4 linked regions of the Homo sapiens genome follow. The protein of the gene in region 1 purifies or fractionates together with the protein of each later gene. This does not show direct contact. Each region holds a gene or a part of one and is shown in the gene's direction. Other genes may lie near its edges.

Region 1 (5,190 bases):
CTTCCTTTTCCCTTTCCCTCCCTGCCTTCCCTTCCCTTCCTTTCTCCTCCCCCTCCCCGTCTCCTCCCTTCCCACCCCCCAGCTCCTCTCCTCAGGGTCCTACTCCGTAGCCCAGGCTGGAGTGCTGTGGTATGATAGCAGCTAGCTACAGCCTCAACCTCCCCAGCTCAAGTAATCCTCCCACCTCAACCTCCTGAGTTTCTGGGACAACAGGCACACAACACCATGCCTGGATAAGAAAAAAACATGTTTTTTTGAAGAGAGGGGCAACTTTGTTGCCCAGTCTGGTCTCAAGCTCCTGGCCTCAAGCAATCCTCCCACCTTGGCCTCCCAAAATGCTGAGATTACAGGCCGGACACAGTGACTCACGCCTGTAATCCCAGCACTTTGGGAGACCAAGGCAGATGGATCACTTGAGGTCAGGAGTTCGAGACCAGCCTGGCCAACATGGTGAAGCCCCCTCTATATTAACATATAAAAATTAGCCAGGCATTGTCACGGGAGCTTGTAATCCCAGTTCAGTTACGTGGGAGGCTGAGGTAGGAGAATTGCTTGAACCTGGGAGGCAGAGGTTGCAGTGAGCCGAGATTGCGTCACTGTACTCCAGCCTGGGTGACAGAAACAGAATTAGTCTCAAAAACCAAACAAAATGCTGAGATTACAGATGTGAGCTATGATGCCCGGTTCTGTTTTTCATTTATCTGTTTTCTTTTTCCTGCCTTCCTGTGGATTAACTGAACACTTTTTAGGATTCCATTTTTATTCATTTATAATGTTTTTGAGTGTTATCTCTTTGTATAGACTTTTTAGTGGTTACTCTAGGTATTATACATTATGTATACATAGGTTATCACAGTCTCCTGGTGTTGGCATTTTACTAGTTTGAGTGAAGAAGAGAAACCTTTCCTTCCTTTACATCCCTTTACCTTCTCCCATTTATGATACTAAATATTTAATAGTATAATATTATCATATTTAAATATTTTCTCTGCATACATTTAGAACCACATCAGACATTGTTATACTTTTTGCTTTAATCATCAAATGTAACTTAGAAAACCTAAGAGGGGCTTTCCAGCCCCAGCCCCGGCCCCTACAGCCACCGAGATGTTGATGCCTAAGAACCGGATTGCCATTTATGAACTCCTTTTTAAGGAGGGAGTCATGGTGGCCAAGAAGGATGTCCACATGCCTAAGCACCGGGAGCTGGCAGACAAGGATGTGCCCAATCTTCATGTCATGAAGGCCATGCAGCCTCTCAAGTCCCGAGGCTACGTGAAGGAACAGTTTGCCTGGAGACATTTCCACTGGTACGTTACCAATGAGGGCATCCAGTATCTCCGTGATTACCTTCATCTGCCCCGGAGATTGTGCCTGCCACTCTATGCTGCAGCCGTCCAGAGACTGGAAGTCCTCAGCCTAAAGGTCTGAAGGGTGAGCGACCTGCAAGACTCACAAGAGGGAAAGCGGACAGAGATAACCTACAGACGGAGTGCTGTGCCGCCTGGTGCCGACAGCAAAGCTGAGGCTGGGGCTGGGTCAGCAACCGAATTCCAGTTTAGAGGTGGATTTGGTTGAGGATGTGGTCAGCCACCTCAGTAAAATTGGAGAGGATTATTTTGCATTGAATAAACTTACAGCAAAAAAACTTAAAAAAAAAAAAAGAAAACCTAAGAGGGGAAGGAAATCTTGTTGTATTTACCCATCTTTTTTCAACTCATGTTTCTTTCTTCCCATTATTTCAAGTTTCCTTTTTTTAAAAAATAATTTCCTTTCTGTTTAGAGAACTTTTTAAGCCATTCTTTTAGTGTAGGTCTGCTGGTGAGAAATTCTCTTAGTTTTCCTTCATCTGAGAATGTCTTGATTTCCCCCTCATTTCTGAAGGATATTTTCCTTTGTTACAGGATATTTTCCTTTGTCAATTCTGAATTGACCGTTCTTCTCTTTCAGCATTTGAAAAATAGTATGCCACTTCCTTCTACTCTCTGTCATTTCCGAAGAGAAAATAACCTTTGAGGGATCCCCTCAAAGGTTATTTTCTCTGCTTTCAAGACTTTTTCTTTGTCTTTAGTTATCAGAAATTTAATTATGATCTATCATGGCATGAATTTCATGTTTATTCTGTTTGAAGTTTGCTTGGCTTCTTGAATCTATAGATTTGTGTCTTTTGCCAAATTTTGAAAATTTTTGGTCATTATTTCTTTGAGAACATTTTCAACTGACCCTCTTTCTCCTCTCTACCTGGAATTCTGATGGCTGGATGGAATCATCTCTCAGTGCCCCAACCCAGCCTAGTTGTCTATGCTCTTCCAATTGGAATGCGTAGGTTTATGAAACAGACCAGACTTGACCTTCATTAGCTAATAACCCCTTTGTTCTGACTGAAGGATGCCCTGCCTTTTCCCAGCCTGCCTCCATAGAACACTATGGGGAGATAGTGTCCTTTTTTTTTTTTTTTCTTTTTGAGACGGAGTCTTGCTCTGTTGCCCAGGCGGGAGTGCAGTGGTATGATCTTGGCTCCCTGGAACCTCCACCTCCTAGGTTCAAGCGATTCTCCTGCCTCAGCCTCCCTAGTAGCTGGGATTACAGGTGCCTGCCACCACAGCCAGCTGAGTTTTATATTTTCAGTAGAGACGGGGTTTCACCATGTTGGCCAGGCTGGTCTCAAACTCCTGACCTCAGGTGATCCACCCACCTTGGCCTCCTAAAGTGCTGGGTTTACAGGCATGAGCCACTGCCCCTGGTCGAGATACTGTTTTAATAAAAGTGCAGGTATGTCCTGGGAAGGAAGAATTTGGCAGCCATTCTGGCTATTTTGAAATCATTTCCTCTTTTTTCTTTTGTAATATTTTCTTGACCTAGATGTCATGGAGCATTCTCTGTGCATTCAGAAAATACCTTTGCTAAGGGCTGTGGCATACAACAGCTCTTGAGGAGTTAACAGAAGGGGTAATTCTTCACAAAACACAAATAACTGAGAGGCAGATGCCATGGGAGGCCTTGTGACGCTGTGGGAGCTCAAGGAGGGGAAGATGTGTTTCCCACAGGATGCGGGGTAGCATCTTGGAAGATGAGGCATTTGAACATGAACTTGAGGAACTTGGAGACGCCTTAGGTGAAAATGGGAAGAATAGATATTTAAGGCACAGGAAATGATGGGAGCAAAGGCACTGAAGTTGGAAACCATGGAATGTATTGGATAGGGCACTGAGAGATGGTAGCAAGAGGTGTGAGTTTACCCAGACTGTGGAAAGCCTTGCATGCCACTCTAAGGATGTGGCTTTTATTTCATAGGAATTAAGTGTTTTCATAAAACCAGCTACTTTGCTAGGGTTGGGAAGGTTTAAGGGCCATTGTGACAGTGTCTTCTGTCTTCCCAATCCAAAAAGTGGGAGGATGCTGATGTTTCAGTGCCACCCTCCTGTGTGGCAGAGAGTAACCTCCATACATTTTCTCATTTTCTTTTTCTTTTTGAGACAGCATCTCACTCTGTCGTCCAGGCTGGAGTGCAGTGGCGCGATCTCAGCTCACTTTAACCTCCGCCTCCCTGGTTCAAGCGATTCTCCTGCCTCAGTCTCCTGAGCAGCTGGGATTACAGGCGCCCACCACCACGCCTGGCTAATTTTTTTGTATTTTTGGTAGAGATGGGGTTTCACCATGTTGGCCAGGCTGGTCTCGAACTCCTGACCTCAGGTGATCCTCCCACCTCGGCCTCCCAAAGTGCTGGGATTACAGGCATGAGCCAGCACACCGGCAATATTTTTAAGTAATATTCAACAAAAAAACCCTCAGTTGGGGGCCGGGTGCGGTGGCTCACGCCTGTAATCCCAGCGCTTTGGGAGGCTGAGGCGGGAGGATCACAAAGTCAGGAGTTCGAGACCAGCCTGGCCAATGTGGCGAAACCCCGTCTCTACTAAAAATACAAAAATTAGCCAGGTGTGGTGGCAGATGCCTGTAATCCCAGCTACTTGGGAGGCTGAGGCAGGAGAATTGCTTGAGCCCAGGAGACGGAGGCTGCAGTGAGCCAAGATCGTGTCACTGCACTCCAGCCTGGGAGACAAGAGCAAGACTCCATCTCAAACAAACAAAAAACCCTCAGTTGGATGGTAATATACCCCTTTTACAGATAAAAACATCAAGAGTTAAGTATCTCACCAAAGACTGATTTCTTCTCCACCAAGTTGGAACGTTATCTTCTCTAGACATTTGGAAGGTTAAGAGGGTTCCTTAAAACCTGTTACCAGTAAGATGTCATTTATGCAGCTGGGCCTCAAGGCAGGGGATGACCAGATGACCTCAAGATCACTTTCATTCTTGGATAGCCCAGCACCTATTTCTCTTCATTGTCTGGGAGAGGCATATACTCCATCCTCACGCTGTCACAGAATGGAATCCAGAAGGAGCCTGAGATATACTTGGTCCAACTTCCTTATTTTTCCAGTGGGAACCAGAGATCCATAGTGGCTAAGCCCCTCATTCACTTCCATGCATAGTGCAGGTGATTTACTCTGCCTTGTTAGCCTTCTCTCAACGTTATCATCTTCCCAATCTACAGGCCCTTACTTTTCCCTCCTACCACGTTTTTCCTTTCAGGTTTTTAATTTTCCCTGCAAAGTATTGTGTGTGTGTGTGTGTGTGTGTGTGTGTGTGTGTGTGTGTGTGTGTGAGTGTTTGAGACGGAGTCTTGCTCTGTCACCCAGGCTGGAGTGCAGTGGCACAATCTTGGCTCACTACAAGCTCCGCCTCCCGGGTTCACGCCATTCTGCTGCCTCAGCCTCCCGAGTAGCTGGGACTACAGGCGCCTGCCACCACGCCAGGCTGATTTTGTTTTTGTATTTTTTAGTAGAGACGGGGTTTCACTGTGTTAGCCAGGATGGTCTCGATCTCCTGACCTCGTGATCCACCTGCCTTGGCCTCCCAAAGTGCTGGGATTACAGGCGTGAGCCACCGTGCCCGGCCTTTTTAAAAAAATCTTCTTTGAAGCCCGGGCAACATGGCAAAACCTCATGTCTACAAAAAATACAAAAATTAGATGGGCATATTGGTGCGCCTGTAGTCCCAGCTACTTGGGAGGCTGAGGTGGGTGGATCACTTAAGCCTGGGAGGTTGAGGCTGCAGTCATGCGCGCGCGCGCGCACACACACACACACACACACACACACACACACTTCTTTGACTTATGAAAGAAAA
Region 2 (5,190 bases), on another chromosome or scaffold:
TTTACCTGAATTGCACACAGGCAGCCTCATAAAAGTAAGAAAACGTCAACTATAAATATGGTGTTTCTTCAACCAAAGTGTTCCTCCTTAGGTTGGCTCCCCCACCTGGCTTTCTTCTTTTGCAGTAGTGGAACCACCATCCACATCGCTCCCTCTGCCCCCAGCTTCCTGCTACTGCACACACTTCTGTGCAAGGCCCCAGTAGCTGTCATCTACTTTAGTCCTGTGGGAGGCTGTACACTCCTACAGTTAAGAATGAGAGAATGAGGACTCTGGCTGGGCGCAGTGGCTCACATCTGTAATCCCAGCACTTCGGGAGGCTGAGGCAGGTGGATCTCTTGAGGTCAGGGGTTTGCAACCAACCTGGCCAACATGGCAAAACCCCGTCTCTACTAATAATACAAAAATTAGACAGGTGTGGTGGTGCGTGCCTGTAATCCAAGCTACTTGGGAGGCTGAGGCAGGAGAGTTTCTTGAATCCAGGAGGTGGGGGTTGCAGTAAGCTGAGATTGTACCACTGACTGCACTCCAGCCTGGGTAACAGAGCAAGACTCTGTCTCAGAAAAAAAAAAAAAAAAAAAAAGAATGAGAACACAAGGGAGATTACTGGGCTCATTCCGGCTCCACCATTCACTAGCTGTGTGACCTTGAGCAAGTTACTTAACCTCTCTCTGTCTCAGTTTTCTCATTTATGGAAGAGTACCTATTTCTTTGGGTTGTTGTGAGGATTGAAAGTGTTAATGTATATAAAGCAGGCAGAACAGTTCCTAGCACATAGTAAGAACAGTATCAGTGTGGCCTAATGTCTTGCTCCCAAGCTGTCCACGTTAATCCCTGGAAAAAAATACCACCAGATAATCTCCTTCAAGTCATCTCTTTCATTACAGCACACCGCTTGTTCCTAAAAGTAAAATGCAGACTTTGGTATCTGTTGTTCTTTATAGTCTAGCCTTGGCTTTTTTAAGTGACCTTAGGAGAAAAATATGAATGGCATTTGGGCCTTGCCTTTGAGGCTCTTAGCATATAGTCAGAGAAATGAGACAGACAGCACCCTGCATAGTAATAGGTACAGCCATAGAAATAGTGCCAGGCATAGAGAACGGATGATTAATTCTCATGTGGGCGCAAGGACAGGCATCACTGAGTAGATGACAACCGAGGTGGGTTTGAAAAGATGAATTAATGTTTGCCAGGTAATGAAGGGAGGAACAAAGAGGAAACAATCTGTGCACAGGTGCAGGGGTGTGGAGCCACATGGCTTGCTTGGTGCTATTGGACAAAACGTGCACGGAGGGGAAGGGCTGAACCATGAAGACCATTTGTTCTGTGGGGACACAGTGAAGAGCTCTGAGTTGGGTGGGGCAGGCTCGGATTGGCATTCTAGGGGAGATCGCAGAGCTGGCAATGTGGGAGGTAGATGGGATGGGAGGAAGCCCAGAAGGAGCCCTGGGCAGTGGCCATTCCTCGGCACACTTGCTCGTGTGATGGCCATGGGTGTGTTTTCCCTCGGCTTCTGTACTGACACCTAGCCAGTGTTTGGTAAGGAGGTGTGCTCCTCAGAATCACCTGGGAGCTTTTCAACATAGTCATGCTCCACCCCCAGAGATTCTAATTTGGTTTTTCCAGACAGCACAGTCCAATAAAAACATAATGCAAACCACAAACATGAGCCACATATATAATTTCATATTTTCTGGTAGCCAGACTTTAAAAAATAAAAATAAATGTAAAATTAACTCCAAAATATTTCAGCATGTAATAATTATAAACAACTAATAAGTTCGTTCACATTCTTTTATTTTTCTATACTGTCTTTGAAATCCTGTGTGTATTTAACACTTACAGCACATTTCAATTCAGAAAAGCCACATTTCAAGTGCTCAGTACCTGCATGCAGCTAGTGGCTAATGCATTGGACAGCACAGATCTAGAATGGGGTCCAGGAATCTGTAGGTTGATCATGCATCCAGGGTATTCTGGCCTACAAGCCAGGTTGAGAACTTAAGGCAGTCCGGCTCCCACCTTGCCTTCCCAATATCCATATCCTACCCATCCTTCAGTGCCAGCCCAAGTTCCTTCTCCTCTGGGAAGCACAGGTTGTCTTTGCCATTTATTTGGCACTAATCATACATCACCCTGTCCTATTATTAATCTTTTCTTGGTGCACCTCCATTTGCCCTTTGTTAGCCATAAGCGTCTATTGGGCAAGAACCCCATACTATATTTCTTTTCATCCCCAGAGTACCTAATCCATTTATTTAGTAGCACACTCTGTGATTTATAAACATTTCCAGACTGACAACACACCTGTCCATGCTGCATCTGTTAAAGCCTAAACTTGGGAGATATTTATCTCATGTCATCATTATAAAACAGTGAGGCAGGCAAGAAAAGGCTTTGCTCAAGGTCACACTCCCCCTCCTGACAGACAACACTGCTCTCAGTTTATCACATTTTGTGTATTGATTTGCAGCTGGACTTCCAGTTAAAACAGATATAACCCCTGGGCCATCTCGATTATGTTCTGGAGCACGACGTTCTTTCTTCTGTAGGATGAAGTGTAACAGGCCTTCAGTAAAGGTTGAAGACAAGGACTTCCCCTCTACCTGCTCAAAGAAAAAAGGTAACAATTTAACAGTCCATTAAAACCCTGTGACAGGTGAAGCATGCTTTCTGCAGCGGAGCTCTCAGCTGGGCGTTGGTTCCATGGTTTCTGGCTGGCCAGAGTGGCAGGTCCCAGGACTGCAGACAGGACCCTGCAGTCCTCCCTATGTGTAGGGCAGTTGGGAGCAGAGGAGAGAGCTGAAAAGCCTGATGGCAGAGATTTGTGGAGAGGCCTCCTCTGTTTAAATTGTGTTTCTTTTAACATGATTGAGGAAGAATACTCTCAGCCACAATCCTAACTGCCTTATGAACAGCCACCAGTCCACCAAAATTACTCTGAGCTCACCAGTGACCTTGATGTTGTTAAATGCGATGAACATTTTTCCTTTGTCTTCCTTCTTGAAGTGTTCTCTTCTCCTGGATTCCATGAAACCACATTCTTCTTCCTCCTCCCCGACCCCCTGCTGCTACAGGCTCTCTTGCTGGCCCCTTTGCTGGCTGCCCCTCTCTGTCCTGGGCTGCATCTCTGTCTGCAGTCTCTCTCTGTTGGTCATGTCATCTACTCCCTCAGCTTTAAATGCCAACAACTTCCACATTCATATTTCCAGCCTAGACTTGTCTTTTGAACTCCAGATTCATAAATATACTGCTTACTAAATCAACCTGCTTTGGATATCTCAGGGGAGTCTCCAACAGGATACGTGCCGAAGTAATCACCTGAGCCTCTCCTCCAGCATAAATGGCACTGCCATTCAGCTGGCTGCTCATGCTAGAAGCCGGGGAGGTGCCCTCACTTCTGCTTCACCACCCCACTCTTCAATCCCGTTAGTTATGAAGTCCTGCCACAATGAGTCCCATCTGCAAAAGTTCTCTGAAATGTTTGTCCCTTTCCATGCTGCCTACTTTCACTCAGCTCCAGGCTGCCCCCAACTCTCACCAGGTCTCATAAAGTGTAGACCCACATGCTCCCCACCCCCAACACAGCAGCCAGGATGATCTTTTTATCAGTCCCCTTTTAAAAACCCTTCAGTGTTCCCTATTGTTCTTGAAGAAAAGCTCAAAATATTTAACGTGACCATGCAGCCCCCGACCCTGCCACTAAGCACATGTGAGCCATGTTGACTTCCTTTGATGCCTCAAGCCCCTTCTGGGCAATGCTTCTGCACATGCTGTCGCTTCCTGGTTGGAATTTCTTCCCTCTCCCCATGAACTCCCTTCACATGGCTCTCTCCAACCTCAGACTGCCTTATGTCTTATAGCACCCTACTGGTTTGCTTTCTAGTGCTTTCTTATACTTGCTGTTATATAGTTATTTGTGCGATTATTTGTTTAAAGTCTGTCTCCCCCACTAGGCTGTAAACTCCACAAGGGCATGTCTGATTTGTTTTTCACTCTATTCCAGTAACCAGCACAGACTCCACGCTTGGCAGACACTCCATAGTGGTTTGCTTGTTGGTGAAGTCTATAGGTGCTCCACATTTAATGTGTCCCAAATCGAACTATCTTTTTTCTCTCTCTCTCTTCTAGTCTGTTTTCTTTCTTCTCTGAGTCAGTGAATGACACCAGCAACCACCCAATCCAGAAAAGTTAGAGTCATCTTCATTTGTTTCTTTCCCTTAAGCCTGATATTCACAGCAAATCCCAACAGTTTGATCTCAGAAATTTCTCCTGCTTTCTTTCTCTGCTCCCTCTCATCTTCACTGCACTGCCATAGTTCAGTCCTCCTAATCTCTTGCTGTATTATAGCCACTGGCCCCTGAATCAGCCTTCCTACTTCTGTTTTCTACTGTCTTCCAGTTCATACGTCACTCTGCTCCTACAGCATCCAAACCACAATTTGATTTTGCTGTTTCTGCACTTAAATACCTGTAGATGCTCTCCATTTCCTGCCTTAAAAAGACAGACCAACATTGGTTAGAAAGTAATCCAAGGCCCTTTTAATCTTCCTCCAACCTGCCTTTCCAATTTGCCCCTCACTCCCAGTACCTCCAATTTCACTTCAACCACACAGAGCTCTTGGCCAGTTCCTATATAGGCTGTGCCTCTGTGCCTGTGTACGTCATCAGCCTTTATACATTCTAGTCCCTCAGCCACTGCTCATCCTTCTTGATCCACCTCCTCTACTGGTTTTTTGGGGGAGCCTTCCTCTCCCTAGGAAGAGTTAGATATTCCTTCCTTGGTGTATGTAATGAATGTCCATGGTATAACTGGCCCTACTTAAGCATTCTGACACTGGATGACAGTTTGTTTCTCTTTCCGTCTGCCCCTTTCATTAGATGCTTACTTCTGGAGAGTGAAGCCTTGATTTTTTTTTATTTTTTGACTCCCTACCTACATCCCATCCCACCATCGGCCGTGTACACCTCCATGGCCCAAACCTAGTGCTGACACTAACCACGAACTTTGCTTTCTAGCAGATCGAAAAAGCTTCTGCACAATCCACAGCACAGGCTATTTGAAAAGCTGGCCACCCACAAAGATGGGGCTGGATGAAGACAACGAACCAGACAATGAGGGGTGTAACCTCAGCTGCCTCGTCGCAATTGGACGACTGCATTCTCATGTAGTTCCACAACCAGTGAACGG
Region 3 (4,000 bases), on another chromosome or scaffold:
AACCAATTTGTCCTTCCCATAGATGTCTTTCTCCCCCATTCCTTTCCCCTACTAAGTTAGGTATATAAGCCCCAAATTCTAACCACACTTTTCAGTTACTCTTCACGGAACACTCCCACATGTGCGAACATTGTCCGCATAAATAAGCTCTTTTCTCTTACTAATGTCTTTTTTTCAGTTTAATTTGCAGGCTCCTATTGAAATAACAAAAGTTGGTAGAGGAAAAAGTTTTTTCTCCCCTACAAAGGCCAAGAACATTTTGGCTTTATATTTATATTTATATTATAATGTGAATTGATTATAATTATAATGTGAATTGATAGAAATATATATATTTTTTTTCTGCCCCTGCTTGGCACATGACAGAACATGGGCATAGACAGACTGGCTATTGGTAATCCAGTCCTGGGAGATGATCAGGAGGCAGTACTCAATCCTACTTTCTTCTCTACAGCTTCCCATGGGCTAAAGAATTTACATGTCTGCCCACAGCAAATGTACTCAGGCTTCTACACTAACATAAGCCCACGGAAATGAAACAGAAAGGGACAGTTCATATGTTTCTGAATAGATCCAGTTGAATAGTCTCATTCAATTTGAGACTGTTGAACAACTGTTGTTGTTCTACATACATTTAAAGTCAGGGCACATGCGTCACTGCTTATTTTTCTTACTTGACATATTCCCTGCATTTCCATGTCTGCCTGTCCTTTAGATAAACAGTAAAAGTTTCCCATGTGCCAGTATTTCTCAAATGGTTTACATCAGAATCACCTGGAGGACTTTTAAGCTAGATTGTTTGGTCCCATCCCAGGGATTCTGAATCAACAGGTTTGCGATGGGTCCAGATAGTTTACTTTTCCAAGTTTACTAACAAGTTTGCCAAGTTCCCCCAGTTTATTACCATTAGACCATACCTTTTTGTCCAATCATTTAAAACAAATTTTTATATAATAAGTTTTATTTGTATGTAATAAATTTTATTATATAAAAATAAGTTTTAATATATATTATATAAAAAGTTTTAATAAATACCTAATATATTATTTAATATGATAAAACTTATATTAAATGAAATTTTATGCTGTTCTCTTGTCAATCTGTCTTTTGTTATCTTGCTGGTGTGCCTGTCATGTGAGGGACTGCAATCTGATATGCCTGTTTTCCACAGTCAAAGCAATTACAAGAGAATTGTTACAATTACCCAGTTATGTCAAGAGATTTTTTTTTAATTCACTAAGGTAGAGATAAGGAGAATGTATTAAAATAGGATATTTTAATTATAAATGCATGACTGGGGAGGGGGTATTGTTTTTGAATAAAATATGAGGTTATTTGCCATGACAAAAAAAAAAAGAAGTAGGAAAATCCCATGGAAATTTATGTTCCTTCTAACTTTTAAAACTACCTAAAAAATATAATTGATTTAAATTATATCTCAATATTCCCCATTCTTTTATATCCCCTTAAATAGGTACCCATGAAGAGATTATGAACTACTTGAAGGTGGAGACTGTACGGTGGTGTGTTGGAGCTGGCTTGTAATGTCTTATGAGTGACAATCGTTAGTTTGAGGAATTTTGTGAGACAGTTGTCAAATTGTTGCTAGCTTGAAATCTGCGGCAATTGGAGTATTTACACCATAGAAATGCTATAAGTGAAGACCTACCTTTCCCTTAAGAGCTAGTTGTTAAACCTTTACCAGCATACCACTGGACCTTGTCTAAAATTTCTTTGTGTTCCCAGTGTCTTGCCCAGTAGATACAAGATAAATATTGCCAGAATCAGATATCAGGAAGTAGTAAGAAAAGGAGTTAATATGCAAACTAAATCACTCGCTCAATTGAATAATTGAGATCTTCTGTTCATTTGTTCCTTGGACCTTAATCATTTGCATTTTGGAGAAAATTTTTTCTGCTTTAAAAGTCTGTAATTTCAGTTTTTGTGTCGGGGAGAGGGAAAAACTATTTGTCTGTAGTTGCTTTTTGTGACAAAGTGAATACCCACTGGGCTAAGTTTCATATCTAAAGCTTGTCACTAAGAATTTTCATTTTTAGGGGTCAAAAACCTATTTTGAAAATAGTGTTGTGTGAATGCTGTAAGTGTTGTACATGTCTCTGGTTTCAGAATTAAAAGAATTCAGAGTTACCTTGTGAGATAAATGTTCTTTGCTTCATATTCACAGTTTCACCTCCATTTAAATTTATGGGGAAGAATAAATGTTTCCTGACTCAGAAACAATTTTGCCTCCATATTTCAGTGCAAATATATTTTGAAGTTACTTTTAAATATTTATTTAAAACCTCTGTTTCTGTAACTGTATGTTAAACGTATTCTTCTGTAATGAGAATAGACTGGAACATGTGAGGGAAAAATATTTAAAAAAAGATGGCAGTCATCTAGACATGTAAAATGCCAAGAATGTCTTAGAATTGCACAATTTAGAATTTATAGAGCCTTTAATCACCTTGTCTAGCACCTTGTATTAGTCCATTTTCATGCTGCTGATAAAGACATACCTGAGATTGGGCAATTTACAAAAGAAAGAGGTTTAACGGACTTACAGTTCCACATGACTAAGGAGGCCTCACAATCATGGTGGAAGGCAAAGAGGAGCAAGTCACATCTTACATGGATGGCAGCAGACAAGGAGAGAGAGCTTGTGCAGGGAAACTCCCATTTTTAAAACCATCAGATCTCATGAGGCTTACTATCACGAGAACAGCATGGGAAAGACCTGCCCCCGTGATTAAATTATTTCCCACCAGGCCCCTCCCACAACATGGAATAATGGGAGATACAAGATATTTGGGTGGAGACACAGAGCCAAACCATATCACACCTTAAGGTCATGGTCATATAGCTAGTTATCTTGTAAAACCAATGTTTCTTAGTTCATACTTACAACTGCAATTTCACTTTCATTTAGAAAAGAATAAATGTTTCTTAATTGAACAACTATTTTATCTGTGTATTTCATTATAAGCATATTCTGAAACTACTTGAAATCTTTACTTCAAATGTATCTTTCTGTTTAATTGGGCTTAAACTTTTTCTACTGTTTTGAGAAACGTTAGGAAAATGGGAAGGAAAATATCCAAGAAGACAGTTATATAGACTTATAAAATGCCACGATTGTTTTAAAATAACAGAATGCCAAAGTTCATTGGGTCCTTAGTGACATATAATACATTTTCTTATTTTACAGGTATGTTGTACCCAATGTCACATGGCCAGATAGTGGCTAGGCCAGTCTCAGTACTTGAGGGTCTCTGATGCCTCATCACATGCTTTCTCCACAAACTCATGTTGTAATAGGGTATTGGTGTTGACTTGCCATGCTTAGCTCCAAGGATGGGGCCAGAGAACTTAATACAATAGTTGGTATATAGGGAGAATGTAATAGGACAGTGCTCCAGGAAGTTATATTTAATTCTTTAGGTGCTGAAGGTAATGGGATTATAGTTTTTGATGTATACTTTAACAGTAAAGACAATTGCAGGGGTCATTCTACCACACACAGTGATCACTGTCATGCCTGTGCCTACTGAGGGATGATCCAGAACACTCCACCCTGCTGAGAAATCCAGTGAGGACCAGAAAGCTCTTAAAGTGGAAATATTTCCATCAAAAACAACCTGAAAGTATCCGGTAATATCACTGCAGCTGCTGTTAGATGATATGTCTTAGATTTTCCTTCATATTTATTGTCCATGTGTGTAACATTTTATAGCTTCTATGGGACACCTTCAAATGTGTTTAGTACCTCATTTGATCCATGAATAACTCTGAGGTGAATGTTGTTATGCTTATTTTACAAATGATGAACCTGAGACTCAAGTAAGAGGGAAATAATTTGTCCAAAGTCATAGGTACAAAGTGGCATTCTGAGATTTGATTGGAGTCCCTTAGCTGGTATTCTCTTCATAGTTGCAGCCTCACTTTGGGTTGACTTCGTGCACACAAGAAATACAGTATTTTCTTCCTTTTAAAAAAATTT
Region 4 (5,190 bases), on another chromosome or scaffold:
CTCTAAAGCTATAGTTCAGGTGCACTGCCTTAGGCTGCTGGATCCCTAACAGCCATACCATGGGTGTAATAATAAGGCTTACGTTTTAGGAGTGCTCAGAGGCAAACTTGTCATGCATCTGTGTATCTGAGGCCTGGCATTTCCAAGGACCTTTTACTGGTTATCAGTGGATAACTTCCCAACCTAAGACAAGATGATAACATACTCACTTAGTTGTTCTTCACAGGATATTCACACAAAAGTTTCATCTTTTTAATATAAATGTGTATGTGTCTTTTTCAGTTGTCTTTAGGGCGGAGATTGGAGGCAGATCACTGATCTTATCTATTAAACTAGACATTGTTAAATTATTTATCTGGAGTGGATAAAACTATTATTTATCATGAAAAATATAAAATATATGCATTATCACCTCACGCCTGAGTTTTAATGTAGACTATCCTCTTAGCACGCATATTAATTGATAATTCAGTTAATTGGTCCTGTAATGCCCTTCTCACAGCCTTTTACATGGTCTTGCAGTAGGCAGTATTGAGAACCTGGTCTCTGGGACCACACTGACTCAGGTAGAATCCCAACTCAGTCACATATGATCTCAGTGGTCTTAGGTATATTTAGCATTTCATAGTCTACGTTTATTTGTCTCACCAAATGGGTTTAAGTCTAATACCTATTGTTTGATATTGTTTTGATTGTATAAATATCAAACATATTTACTGTATCTTACATAGACTTACAATGTGTGAGAGGCCAAATAGAAATTATTTGGAAAACAAACACAAATTGGATTAAATCTAAAAATATATATTGTCTTTTATTTTCAGAAGGGAGTAATATGATAGGTACTGAAGAAACTAATTTTGATCGTGGCTACATAAAAAAGAAATTAGAACATGGACTTACACGAATATGGCAGGTTTGGTTTTTTTAAAATTATTTTTTTCACAGAAGCAATAGAAATGTCATGTCATAGTTTTAGAAATTCAGTTTTAAGTTTTCTATATATGTATTCTTTGCAGATTTAATCATATGTTTCTGTTTGGAATTAGGCTATCATTTAATTTCTGTAATGTATTTGGACTATAAGTGGCAGGAAAAAAGTTTTTTAATTTGAAAATCTCCACTGGAAATATTCATACATGTCTTGAGTACATCTTTTGTTTTAGAGGCCTAGCAAATTTCCACTATCATAGAGAAATGTATGCTTTCTCAGTGAGATGTTCTGTTTATTATTTCATTTATCTGTGTTTTCTTAATTTTTTTTTCTGTTAATTTTAGAAAAGGAGTAACTAAGTAGATAGCATACTTAGGTCAGATTATAGTTTAGAATGAATAATTCTTTTTTTCTCAGTCAATGATCTTTGTACCTTGAGGGAATCTTACATGCTTATTGGCTGAATATATCTGGTTTTAGTCCATTTGGGCTCCTATAACAAAATATTCTAGACTGCATAGTTTATAAACAGAGAAGTTTATTTCTTAGAATTCTAAAGGCTGGAAGTCAGAGATCAGGGTGCCAGCATTGTTGGGAGGGAGGGCCTGCTTCCTGGTTCATAGACATTGTCTTGCTGTATCCTCAAATAGTGGAAGGGATGAAGGAGCTCTCTGGGGTCCCTTCTATAGGGGAACTAATCTAATTAATGAGGGCTCTACCTTCACGATTTAATCATCTCACAAAGGCCCCACCTTCTAATATATTATCACCTTGGAGGTTAGAATTTCAGCTTCGGAATTTTGGGTAGACATGAACATTCAGACCATAGCAGTATCTTATTAAGTTTTTCTTTACAATTTAGTAACTCAGTTGTTGTAATCAGATAATTTGTTACTTCTTAGATCACAGTGTAATTTCTTTGAAGATAACTTACTCTTTTTGGACTTCTTTGAACCTTGGAAGACTATAGACCCTTTGGCCATGTTATGGTCTTTTAAAATGTATTTTTGATTTTTCTAATGAGGCTGATCTTTATTTTGACCATCTTTTTTTTTCTTTCTTTCTTTTGATTGATTGATTGATTGATTGAGACAGGGTCTCACTCTGTCACCCAGGCTGGAGTGTGGTGGCAGAGTCATGGCCCAGTGCAGCCTCGACCTCTTGGGCTCAGGTGATCCTTCTGCCTCAGCCTCCTGAGTAGCTGGGACCACAGATGTGCACCACCATGCCTAATTTTCTTAAATTATTATTGGTGGATATGGGGTCTTGCTATGTTGCCCAGACTGGTCTTGAACTCCTGGGCCCAAGTGATATTCCTGCCTTGGCCTCCCAAAGTGCTGGGATTACAGGCATCAGCCACCATGCCCAGCTTGACCATCTTTTATAGGATATGTTTTGAAAAAAATTGTTTAGGAAAATATATTTTGAAAACATAAATTTCTTCATGAATCAGTTAATATTTATAATTTAGTGCTCTTCTAATTTTTGATAATTTTGTATTCGATATGCTATTTGATTTTATGCTTTAGTATTTAAAATTTATTTTTGTGGTTGTAAGAGGTTTGACATATATTTTCTCATTTGTCTATATTAAACTCATAACCATATTAAACATTTATTAAAATTAAATATTTAATTTATCATTAATTGTGGATTTAGGCTGACTGTTTTCTGAGTATTATGCATAAAAAGAAAGGAAAATCTTATAGTTATTGAATATACACCCAGGATCAGATATGATTTGTTTCTGACTTAGTCTCCCAATAGGCCTTAAGTGTACTTTGGTAAAATTTTACAATCTATGATAGAATTTCTGGTAATTCAGTGTACTTTGAAATACTGACTTAGCACTTTATGTAGCTACTTTCCATTCAGTTTGGCAACCTGATGGCATTCCTGGTATAGGAAATGGGATTGTCTCTATTACATCCCTTAAGGATGTTGGCTATTGGCCTAAATAGATATTCGTTAACAAATTAGGAATATATTCCTGTCTCATTTTAATCTGGAACTATAGAGTAAATGCTTCTGATAACTTATTTTCTATATTTTGGGTTTGCTTGATTTTCTTTTTCTTTGCCTTACAGGATGTTCAGCTAAAAGTAAAAACCTACTTGCTTGGAACTGATTTGTCTATATTCAAATATGATGATTTCATCTTTGTTTTGGATATAATCAGCAGGTAGTATTTAAGATCTTGTCTTATTCTTTAGTTTGAGTCATTCAACCATGATAAATCATGAGCTAGTGAGTTATCATCTATAACTTCTTTATGGAAATGAAGATAATTTTTGCTGCTAAGTTTGTGAGTGTATTTAAATATTTCTGCCCTTTGGGTGTTTGTAAACCTTTATGGATTTGTGATCTTTAGAATTTTTTCACATGTCCAAATTTTAGTGATTTTTTTTATCTTTGAAGAAAGAGAAACCACACTTCTTTTTCTCTATAAGGCTGCTGCTGAAATTTACTGAAACCTTTTTATCCAACTAGGTTGATGCAAGTTGGAGAAGAATTTTGTGGTAGCAAGTCTGAAGTTTTACAGGAATCTATTAGAAAACAAAGTGTCAATTATTTCAAGAATTACCATAGGTAAGAACTCTAATAAGATATGAATCGACTTATTTAGGTAATGAGAATACTTTTGTCTAATACTTAATCTTATAGCATTAATTGATTTTAAACAATTACTTTTGAATTTGAATGTGTTGTAGCTTTTTTAAGATGGTTAAGGATTTTTTTAACCAAAATATGATGAAATGTTCTCATTACATATTCATTGTACATTTTAATATATTTTTGTCTTGAGGGGCTTAAAATATTGAACTGATTTTTTAATGAGTAAAACATGATTATTATATCAAGGTTCACAGAAAGAATTTGGCCACTGTTCCATACCTGCATACATATGGGTGTGCTTATAAGGAAGTTAAATCAGTAGAGGCAGTGCTCAGTGAGGGGGTGCTTGAGAGTATCTATCTTTTAAATGTAAGAAGGATTCTAGAGGAGAGGATGTGATATTCAGAATTCCCCTATAAATCCAAATTTGTATACTGCATTGCTTTGCAAAACAATCACTGCTAATATTTAAAAGAGTGACTAGGAATGGTTTGGGTAGTGGAGGAAGGTGGGAAAGAATGTTTATAATAGCAGTGTGATTATATCCTTACAGCAGCAATAAATTGAGGGAAGGGAGAGCTAACATGAGATTTCTCTTGATATAAGCTAGACCCCAAGTTGTATCCCTTTTGTCCTTTGAGTTGAGTTTCATCTTACTTTTTATTCTGAACTTTTACTTTTTACAATTGAATTTAAGTTTTGATTTCCTTGTTATTTGGTCCCAGAGAGAGTCATGATTTGAAATTCTGCTTTTTCTCCTTGTTCATAGTCAACACCTGCTCACAGTGATATATGCCATGTCAAAAGAGAGATGACTGAACACCAAACCATTGATTAATTAATTATTATATATATTTGAATACAAGTTATCTCTGTTAATTGTAAACAATGAAGTAAATTGTTTGAAAAAGATTTAAATTGAACTATACTAAAGCAGAGCCTTTGAGTTTCATGACTGAGAATGTTTAAAAATTTTTTAAAAATTTAATTGACTAAACCTCAGGGAAACAGTGGGAAGGGACCAACAGGAAGCCCTAACACTGCCTTTATTTATAAGTTCCTTGTCTGCTAAAACTTAAGCCCTGACTAAAACAAAAGGCTGGCCCTATAAACATTCCTGTATAGAAGTGGGAGGGGCCTGTTAATCATGGATGGGGAAATAAAATGGAAGCACAAAGGAGCCGGAAGCCTCACTTTCCCTGCAGTATGAAGGCATGCCAAATGTCTCTCTTCCCAGAGATTGCTTTGTATCCAACATGACAACTGGGAGAACTTTTGGTGTTCCTGGTGTCTAGGATGTGTGTACAATATAGAGACACTGATTTATTTAGTAGCTTCCATTCTGCATTCTGTTTTACTTATTGTCAAAAGGTGTCTGTCATCTGTAGCAACTAGCTAGGGGCATTTTGACCATGATGGAAATTCCTCACAGAGTTCACATTAATAAAATTAGAAAATACAGAAATGAATGACTTAAATCTTCCTCAAACACTCAACATTTTAAATAACTTCTCTTAGAAACATTTGTGAAACTTATTTCTCATTGATGTGGCTGTGCTATATTATTAGAAGGAAAGCTGGGTTGAGTAATAGTAGACTTGGGTTCTTGTCGCATTTTTTGCTGCTTACCAACTGTCTGG

Evidence for each region. The genes of interacting proteins can lie anywhere in the genome.
Region 2: the proteins of TUFT1 (region 1) and BMAL1 purify together in Homo sapiens (affinity purification with mass spectrometry, with the first as the bait; one large-scale study listed by BioGRID). This does not show direct contact.
Region 3: the proteins of TUFT1 (region 1) and DZIP3 purify together in Homo sapiens (affinity purification with mass spectrometry, with the first as the bait; one large-scale study listed by BioGRID). This does not show direct contact.
Region 4: the proteins of TUFT1 (region 1) and VPS50 purify together in Homo sapiens (affinity purification with mass spectrometry, with the first as the bait; one large-scale study listed by BioGRID). This does not show direct contact.

What each region holds. Positions count from the first base shown.
Region 1 is NC_000001.11:151,556,339-151,561,528, forward strand, and holds part of TUFT1 (tuftelin), read left to right. Parts: intron 1-1,070; exon of another isoform or gene 1,071-1,653; intron 1,654-5,190. UniProt on the Homo sapiens protein: Involved in the structural organization of the epidermis. Involved in the mineralization and structural organization of enamel.
Region 2 is NC_000011.10:13,367,145-13,372,334, forward strand, and holds part of BMAL1 (basic helix-loop-helix ARNT-like protein 1), read left to right. Parts: coding exon of another isoform or gene 1-34; intron 35-2,473; coding exon 2,474-2,623; intron 2,624-5,018; coding exon 5,019-5,190. UniProt on the Homo sapiens protein: Transcriptional activator which forms a core component of the circadian clock.
Region 3 is NC_000003.12:108,691,886-108,695,885, forward strand, and holds the end of DZIP3 (E3 ubiquitin-protein ligase DZIP3), read left to right. Parts: intron 1-1,474; 3' UTR 1,475-2,955; downstream 2,956-4,000. UniProt on the Homo sapiens protein: E3 Ubiquitin ligase proteins mediate ubiquitination and subsequent proteasomal degradation of target proteins.
Region 4 is NC_000007.14:93,293,721-93,298,910, forward strand, and holds part of VPS50 (syndetin), read left to right. Parts: intron 1-824; coding exon 825-916; intron 917-3,021; coding exon 3,022-3,116; intron 3,117-3,424; coding exon 3,425-3,523; intron 3,524-5,190.